2 linked regions of the Homo sapiens genome follow. The protein of the gene in region 1 purifies or fractionates together with the protein of each later gene. This does not show direct contact. Each region holds a gene or a part of one and is shown in the gene's direction. Other genes may lie near its edges.

What was found. The genes of interacting proteins can lie anywhere in the genome.
Region 2: the proteins of AGTR1 (region 1) and ATP12A purify together in Homo sapiens (affinity purification with mass spectrometry; 3 studies listed by BioGRID and IntAct, with this or other methods). This does not show direct contact.

What each region holds. Positions count from the first base shown.
Region 1 is NC_000003.12:148,704,023-148,708,500, forward strand, and holds part of AGTR1 (type-1 angiotensin II receptor), read left to right. Parts: intron 1-3,921; 5' UTR 3,922-4,005; intron 4,006-4,478. UniProt on the Homo sapiens protein: Receptor for angiotensin II, a vasoconstricting peptide, which acts as a key regulator of blood pressure and sodium retention by the kidney.
Region 2 is NC_000013.11:24,678,492-24,683,207, forward strand, and holds the start of ATP12A (potassium-transporting ATPase alpha chain 2), read left to right. Parts: upstream 1-1,916; 5' UTR 1,917-2,252; coding exon 2,253-2,261; intron 2,262-3,070; coding exon 3,071-3,229; intron 3,230-4,716. UniProt on the Homo sapiens protein: The catalytic subunit of a H(+)/K(+) ATPase and/or Na(+)/K(+) ATPase pump which transports K(+) ions in exchange for Na(+) and/or H(+) ions across the apical membrane of epithelial cells.

The sequences.
Region 1 (4,478 bases):
TCAATAAAGCTTTTTAAAAAAATAGTAGATGACATACTTTTAAAAATTAACTTTGGAGCCCAGGTATGGTGGCTCAGACCTGTAATCCCAGCACTTTGGGAGGATCACTTGAGGCCAGGAGTTTGAGACCAGCTGAGGCAACAAACTGAGACCCCCATCTCTACAAAAAATAAAAAATTGCCAGAGCATGGTGGCGCACACCATGTAGTAGTTGGGACCTGTAGTCCCAACTACTCAGGAGACTGAGTTGGGAGGATTGCTTGAGTCTGGGAGGTGAAGGCTGCAGTGAGCCATGATCACACCACTGCACTCCAGCCTGAGCAACAGAGAAAGACCCTGTCTCGAATAATAATAATAATAATAACAACTTTTGATATCTCTATTTTTTCCCATAAAAATCCAAAATTTTCTGTTTACTTTTTGGTGCTCTCATGCTATAAAGTAAATTCTCCCTTGGATTGGACAAGTTATTTTCTGTTTTCTACATACACATAGACTGTTCAGCATTCCAACTCAAATTACATATTACTTTTTCAGCTTTTAATATAAATGCTTATTTACTACAAGCATGGTTTACAAAAATGTAGTAAAATATAGTTACTAACCAGTCAATGCTCAAGCCAGTGACTCCCCAAATGATTCAGTCCCTGAGCTGTTTCACCCAGTGCAGGTAGATTCTCTGACAGCCATCAGTTGGATCTGTCCGAATATCTCCTGTTTTGACAGGGGCTTATTGATGTTGGTCAAAAGACAGGTGTGTATGGGTTCCCTGGGATCATGTTTGAGGGGAAACCTGTGCCAACAGGACTGAGCAGCCACTTTTTCAATGGTATTGAGAAAATTTGTAGGAGATAAAATTTCACCAGCTCCTTGAATCTAGAACTGTAGATATTCAGGTAGCACTGACATTACAACATCTAATTTGTAAGTTATGGGTTAGGGCAAAATCAATCCAGGGCTGCCATCATGACAAGTAGTGGAAGTTTGAAAGAAGGAGAAATACCCAAAAGATATCTTACACATAGCAGGCAGAGTTTCTTAGTACTAATAAAAAATAAAGTACCAGTGATCACCCTCTATAGCCCCTAAGAGTCCCCTGGTTTCACTAAGCCCCAATATTTGTGGCTGTGGCTGAATGCAATCTGCACAAGGTTTTCTTTTTAACAGTTGGAAAAAATCTCATAGCATAGCATTTTTTTCTTTTTAACAGTTGGAAAAATTCTCGTAGCATAGCATTTTTTTCTAGTAAATTTCATATACTTAACAACTTTATCAGCACATATATTTTCCTTCACACTTACAATTTCATCAACACATATACTTTACTTTTTGACTCAAATTCTTCTTGCCATCAATTCAAATGCTCCTGCCCTTAGAATGAGAATTTTCCATTAACCCAGCTTTAATAATCTAACTCTCCCATTCAAATGATGTCACTTCATATAAAACACATTTTATCATGATGTCTCCCAGCCCTCAGTTACACAGTTAATTGCTGCCACTTTATCATGAATGAAAAAGATGTGATTCTTGGGTAATGATTTCTTGAGTATGTCCTGGTCTATTATCTACTGAGTTACCAGAGTGGATTTTTGAGAGAACACACAGTTATTCCTATTCCTTTTAATTTCCATTAACTTAAGCCATATGATAGAACATTACAGTTGTTATATATTTTGTATAAATATAAAATGTAATATATAATTTATATATTTTAAAATATTTAGTGGCAAGTAAAGATAGTAGTAAGTGAAAAAATCACTGTATAACATATGAATCGTAAGTGTGATCCCATGTATGTGTATACCTGGTAGATGCTTGTCAAGGTGCCATTAAGGTCTTGGGTTATTGGCATCTTAATGAAATTCATTTAATTATGTTAGGATTGATTTGTTAGTAAAATCACTTACATGTTTTTTAAATGCATGCATATCTGTGGAGCCAATAAGAAAAATTAGGAACAATATACAACAAATCTTAAGAGCTTTTGAGGATGATTTTTTTTCTTTCTTTCTTTTGTATGTACCTACAAAATTTTCTATAATGGATCTCTATTGATTTTATATTTTTTACTTTCTATTTGTCTTGGAATTTCTATTACTTTATTTATAATTCACTCTAGATTTTAGGTACTAGACAACTACTATTAACTCTCTGGAGAATGGTACTATAAATCTGACCCTTTCTGTCATTTTTTTTTCCTGTGGTACACTAGTGTCTCACAAAGAGTCCACAGAATTCACACGGTCATGATATTTTATAGAAGAAATCATTTTATGGGAACTTTCTTTTGTTAATAGATCCTTCCAATGCTAACATTATTCTGTATAACAGTGCTAAAGTTGGTATGCCTAAATGCTAAACTTGGTATGCTAAAGTTGGTTTAAAAATTAACCTATATACAATCTTCTTGAATAACTCTTCAACTTTAAATAAATTTCTTATTTAAAAAATCCTCCTATATATAATTAAAAATACTGATGAATTTGACTACATAAAAATAAATGCTTATACAGTAAAAAGTACCATAAACAAAGTTATCATCTAAACAAGAAACCTGGGAAAGCTATTTGCCAGCCATTACATGTAAAATTTAAGTTTCCTTAACATAACATGAGCTCTTTAATGTGAGAAACAATAAACAACCTAATTGAAACATGAGCAAAAGCCATGGCTGAGAAAACTCGTAGAAGAATTACTATGGAAACAATAAGAAAATGAAAAGAAGTTCAACCTCATTCATAATTAACGAAATGCAAGTCAAAACAAAGATATACCTTTTACTTATCAGATAAAGAAAAAATGATTTGATAAAACCCAGATTCTTGGTATTATAAATTGGTATAACCTTAACGGAGGACATTTTATGAATATCTATCAAAAACTTAGCATATACAAACAATTTGGTTCAACAGTCTGTTAGAATTTATTATATAGATACATTCATATAAGTACAAAAGTGCATATATGTAAATATTATTATTGGGACATTTTTGTAGCAGCCAAAAGGAAAACTGAAAAAAAAGATTAAGGCTCATTAATAGCAGACTGGTTAAATAAACTATGTGTGAGTACAATGAATGAAATATTGTACAGCCATCAAAATGAATGAGGTAGATTTATATATGCTGATGTAGGAAATCTGCTAGCCATCATAAGTAAAATAAATGAAACAAAGAAGAAAATACTATGATGTACAAAAAGAAAAAACTATAGATATACATATTTATATGCATGTGTATGCATTTTTTATGAATATACATATTTATATGCATGTGTATACAAGTCCTAGAAGGAGACATAGGTAACTATTAGTAGTACCTCTGGGAAGTAAATGCAGAGAAAAGTAATAGAGGGTAAGGATATGTTTACTTTTATTTTACATCCTTCTGTAACTTGACATTTATACGACGCGTTAGCATTACTTCTGGGAAAAAGAAAAACAGAAAAGGTAATCTTTTAAAAAGGTATTTTTTAAATTATGGTACAATAAAATGTGCATAAGCTTTATACTAAGTAATAGAATCATTTAAGTTTAGCTGTAGATTCACAAGTAAAAATCCAATCTATTTTCATATTCTTACATTTATAGACATTTCTTACATGTCTATAGAAAGAAATGGCTAGGAATGAGACTGCACTATTTTACCCTAAAACGTTCTTTTTCTCTTTGCCTAATGTATATCTACAAGGGCATTGGGGAAGATGTTGACCACAGGCAGGAAGATGATGAGATCCTGTGCCCACCACTTAATGCAGTCTAGCTCTATATAAGGAAAAATATGTTCTTGATGTGAACCAGATGGTTTCACTCCCTTCAAAAACACTCTTAAGATGCAGTGTGGAAGCTTACTCTGTAAATTAAAAAATAAAAACCTGACTATATTCAGTGGAATGCGTTAATCATTTTTTTCTTTTTAGGTTTGATATTTGACAAATTGATCTAAAATGGCTGGGTTTTTATCTGAATAACTCACTGATGCCATCCCAGAAAGTCGGCACCAGGTAAATGCCTTACATCTACAGCAGTGGGTCTGTCAGCAGTTTTCTTTAATGTGTCAGCAGTGGGGAGAGCGCAAAAACCCACACACACCATTATCTTGTGAAAGAAGTAGAGGAAGCAGAAAATAATGAAATCCCAGTGTTACCACATCCCCTCCAATATACAGATTAAGAGCGTTTGTATTTATATGGTTTTAAACATAAATAACATCAGAATTACTAAGCTATTTCCATTCATGTACTGATAATGAATCATGTGAGAAAGTCCTTTGGCAAGGACTCCACATGGCCACAGGTGATTCCTTTGAGCAGTGTTCTTCCTGTATAGGGCTTAAGAGGACCAGAAGGGAAATGATTGTACTCTCTTGTCAGCTACTTCCTGGGCGATTTGGGTTCTTTGATACCCCAGTGCTCACTTTCGGAAGTGTTAAGACCATAAACCTTAACAGTTGACCTTCTCACCTTCAGAAAACCCA
Region 2 (4,716 bases), on another chromosome or scaffold:
ATTTGAAAGCCATGATGAACAGAGAGGTGTGGAAAATCTAAGATCACAAATATGCCATGAGAAAGTATCTTTGTCTCTACTGCTACTTTACAAAACCACGTCTCTAACTGCTAACACTTCAAATTCCCTCAAAATAAGCTTCTTTTCCCAATTGTCCCTCACCACCAACTATAGTCATGCTCTGAAATTATTATGGAAATTTAGCATCTGAAAGGAACAGGAAGTTATAATTAATTCCTAATTAGAATTGGGCACAAGCTTTTTTTTCTTATTTTTTTTTTAATTTTTTTATTGTGACAGAGTCTCGCTCTGTCGCCCAGGCTGGAGTGCAGTGGCGCGATCTCCACTCACTGAAAGCTCCACCGTCTCCCGGGTTCATGCCATTCTCCTGCCTCAGCCTCCCGAGCAGCTGGGACTACAGGCGCCCACCACCATGCCCGGCTAATTGTTTTGTATTTTTAGTAGAGATGGGGTTTCACCGTGTTAGCCAGGATGGTCTCGATCTCCTGACTTCGTGATCCGCCCGCCTCGGCCTCCCAAAGCGTTGGGATTACAGGCGTGAGCCACCGCGCCCGGCCGGGCACAAGCTTATTGTTTTTCTTCTACCTTTTCTAAATGTACCCAATGCTCTTCATGTTTTCTGCCAGATGTTCTAGTCACTGCATGATGGGATTGTTACTTTTGCTGCTTCTCTGGACTCCTCACTCTTAGTCATTTTAAATATGGTCAAAATGACAATCTTTCTTACCATATTTGATATATAACTTTCAAAAAGAATAAAACTTAGCACCCTCCTATTAGTCCTTATCTAAATGGAAACTTATTAGCAGAGCATCAAGGGCCCAATAAAGTGCCCCCTCTTTTGAAACTTATCTCTACTCCCTTTCATATATTTCAATCATGTCAATTTCTTATTGTTCTTCTAAATAGGTGCTGATTACTAAACTCTATTCGTGGGTTTTATTTTTTATGTTCCTCTCCATTAATTAATATTCTTCACTGACTTTAAGACTTCACGATTCATTCTTTTAAAAGAACGTGTTTGATTTCCTCCACTGTTAACTGCTAAATATCTCTCTGATATATTGTTTTCAGGCTATCTTTCTCATCTGGAGTAATTATGTTTCAAGTGTCAGGGGGAAAATACCTTTTCTATCCTGTGCAAAAACTCATGCTGGGCACTAAGAGCATGGAGCATGTCCCAGTTATCTATTGCTGCATAACAAACCAACCCAAACTTAGCAGTATAAAACAACCACTGCTTTAGTATGCACATCAACTTTCAGGGTCAGAAATTCTTTTCTCCTTCATGTATAGAGTCTCAGCTGGGAGTGACATAAATAGGTGGAGACAGACCTCTCCAGCCCAGTCCAGCCAACAGCCTCCGCTCCTGCGCACCCGCAGCCTGGGGCCCCAGGTTCCTGTGGTCTCACCGACCCTAATCCTCTCATCTCTCCTCCCCATTCCCTCTCCAAATTGTTTCAGAATTCCAAATTCTTATCTGGATCCGGCAAATTAATTCAGCTACTCTTCAGAGTCTCTCAGTTATTCCCAAATTCTCTCGGAAGCTTGAATTTACCTATCTAAATCCATTCTCAAAAACACATTGGCCTTTTCTAGCCGGGACATCTCCAACAGTAGTTGCTGTTAGAAACTGCAATTTCCCCTTCTCTGCATACACATTTTTATAAATTGATTTATTGGTAGGCAAATTACATTTTTAAAAAAAGGCATGTGTGGGTTTTCAGGGAAGCCTGGACAGGACGTGGGCGTGCCGGGAGCTCGCCGGAGCAGCTGGTCCGGCTCTGGGCGCCCAGCGGAACCAGGGCTGTACTCACCTGGATGCCGGACCCGCCCCCTAGAGACCCCGCCCCCTGGCGTTCGGCTACTAAAGGGAAGGGGATTCCCAGGGGGTCCTCAATCCTGGACTCTCCCGACCCCTAGCTGTCGGTCCCCCTCCCTGCGCGCGCGCCGGCGGGTTTCCTACCCTCCGAGGCGTCCGCTGGCCTGCGCCCTGGCGGGGACGTGGGCGGGGCGGGCGGCATTTAAGGCTGGTGCCACCTCCCCGGTGCAGCGGCTGGCGATCGGCCGCGGAGGTGCGTGCAGGGCCCGCGCCGCCGCCGGTATCTCCACCGCCAACACCTCAGCCACTGCCACTGCCACAGCCACACGAGGCCCCCCACCGTGCGCTCCGCCGCTGCGGTCCCGGATCCGCGCTCCACGCCCGCAGCCCGCGGCGCCACCAGCCCAGCATGCACCAGGTGCGTGCAGCCCCCGCGCCGGCCGAGGATGCGAGACGCTGGGCCAAGGCCCCGGGGACCGGAGCAGGCTGACGGGAAGCGAGGAAAAGGCGAAGAGGAGAAACGCCCCGTCCCGGGGCAAGGGGAGGCCGCCTTTCCTCTGAGCGCCCCCCGGCCTGGGCACCGCTTCTCTGACTCCCCGCCACGGCTCCGTGCGGCCGCCGGGGCTGGCTGGGGAAAGAAGCCAGTCCAGAGGAGCGAGAAGGGGCCAAGGGGTCCTAGGCCAGCTCCATGGCACCTGCGGGCTCCGACTCGGAGGATGGGGTGACATGGATTCGTTGCGGTCTGAAAAGACTTCCGGTTAGGGCCCCCTGATCAGGACTGAGGGTCGTAAGCTTAGTGGGTGCCTCCTCCCCAAGAAACAGGACGCACAGCTGTTGTGTCCCCTGGGAAGGACACCTCAGAGGAAACCTCGAGGTGCCTAAGGAACCTCGAGGTTCTAAGGAAACCTCACAGCTCCTTGGAGGCATCAGTCAGGAGTTGGGGGGGTAACTTCCCACCTGCTCCACCCAGAGAAGGGTCACCCTGAGGAGCTGCTGGCTGGCCTGTGCCCACCCCGCCTCCCCTCTACACGGACGGAGAGGAAGCCAAGGTCGGCGGGAGGTGGGGGAGAGACTCCACTGTCCGACTCCCTCCGGCCTCCCCAGAGGAGGGAAGGAAAGGGAGAAGGGGCTCCTGACTCCTGCAGGTCCTGACCCCGCAGAGGGGCGCTCAGCACCTCTTCGGAAACCCCATTTGGGGCCAATATTGCACCTGGGCTTCTCTTTCAGAAAACCCCAGAAATTTACTCCGTGGAGCTCAGCGGAACTAAGGACATCGTGAAAACAGACAAGGGGGATGGCAAGGAGAAGTATAGGGGTCTGAAGAACAACTGCCTGGAACTCAAAAAGAAAAATCACAAAGAGGAGTTTCAGAAAGAACTCCATCTGGTCAGTAGCCTTAAGCCACGGGGTCCTGCCGGCTATGGCCCTTCCCCGCAAGAGCTTGCCCCTAGAACCCACCTCTTACCACAGACATTCAGTCTGAGGGATTTGAAATCCCCTTGAGATTGTGTGTGGTGTGTGGTGTCTGCGTGGTGTGTCTGTGTGGTGTGTGTGTGTGGTGTATGTGTGGTGTGTGTGTATGTGTGGTGTGTCTGTGTAGTGTGTGGTGTGTGTGTGTATGTGTGGTGTGTGGTGTATGGTGTGTGGTGTGTGTGTATGGTGTGTGGTGTGTGTATATGGTGTGTGTAGTGTGTGGTGTGTGTATGTGTGTGGTGTGTGTGTATGGTGTGTGTGTATGGTGTGTGTATGTGTGGTGTGTGTGATGTGTGTGTGATGTGTGTGTGGTGTGTGTGTGTGGTGTGTATATGTGTGTGGTGTGTGTGTGGTGTGTGTATGTGTGTGGTGTGTGTATGTGTGTGGTATATATGTGTGTGGTGTGTGTGGTGTGTGTATGTGCATGGTATGTGTGGTGTGTGTGTAGCGTGTGGTGTGTGTGTAGTGTGTGGTGTGTATGTGTGGTGTGTGTATGTGCATGGTATGTGTGGTGTGTGTGTAGCGTGTGGTGTGTGTGTAGTGTGTGGTGTATATGTGTGGTGTGTGGTGTGTGTGTGGTGTGTGGTGTGTGTATGTGTGTGTGTGTGTTTTGAATGGTGTGATAGTATCCACCCAGAGGTCAGGGCCTCTGCAGGATTCCTGCATTCTGGTTGGAGGCAGTCCCTGTAGAACTCAGAAGGAAGAGCCTCTGATTCCAGGCCCCACAGGCATGGCCAGACCTCTCTCCCCGCAGCTGCTTCAGTGAGAGTTAAGTAACCACTTGCCAGTTTTCAATTGATTAGTAAAACTATTTGAGCTGGAACTTCTGAGGAGGAAAACCAAAGCCCCTAGGCCATGCTAGATTGCAGGTGTGAAACCTCATGGAAAAGCAGTTTCAGTGGTAAAAATGTGGAGCTTGGATTGGGAGGACCTCGGGCCCCATCAGAGTCCCACTTCTCCACTGAGCTGAAACTGGCAACAAATGACTGACCCTCACTGAAGGTCCATTTCCTTTATGTAAAATGGGAAATAAATAATTTGCTGGGGTCTATGAGGGGAAAAAATGAGATGAGGATTTTGTAATTCACGTGCTTTAGGGGAGTACAATATTATTATTATTAAGGAAGAGCTCTGGAGTTATTAAAACTAGCCTTTTTTTTTTTTTTGAGACAGAGTTTCGCTCTTGTTGCCCAGGCTGGAGTGCAATGGCGCTATCTAGGCTCACTGCAACCTCCACCTCCTGGGTTCAAGCGATTCTCTTGCCTCGGCCTCCCGAGTCACTGGGATTACAGGCGCCCGCCATCACACCCAGCTAATTTTTGTTGTTTTTAGTAGAGACGGGGTTTCCCCATGTTGGCCAGGCTGCTCTCGAACTCCTGACCTCAGATGATCCACCCGCC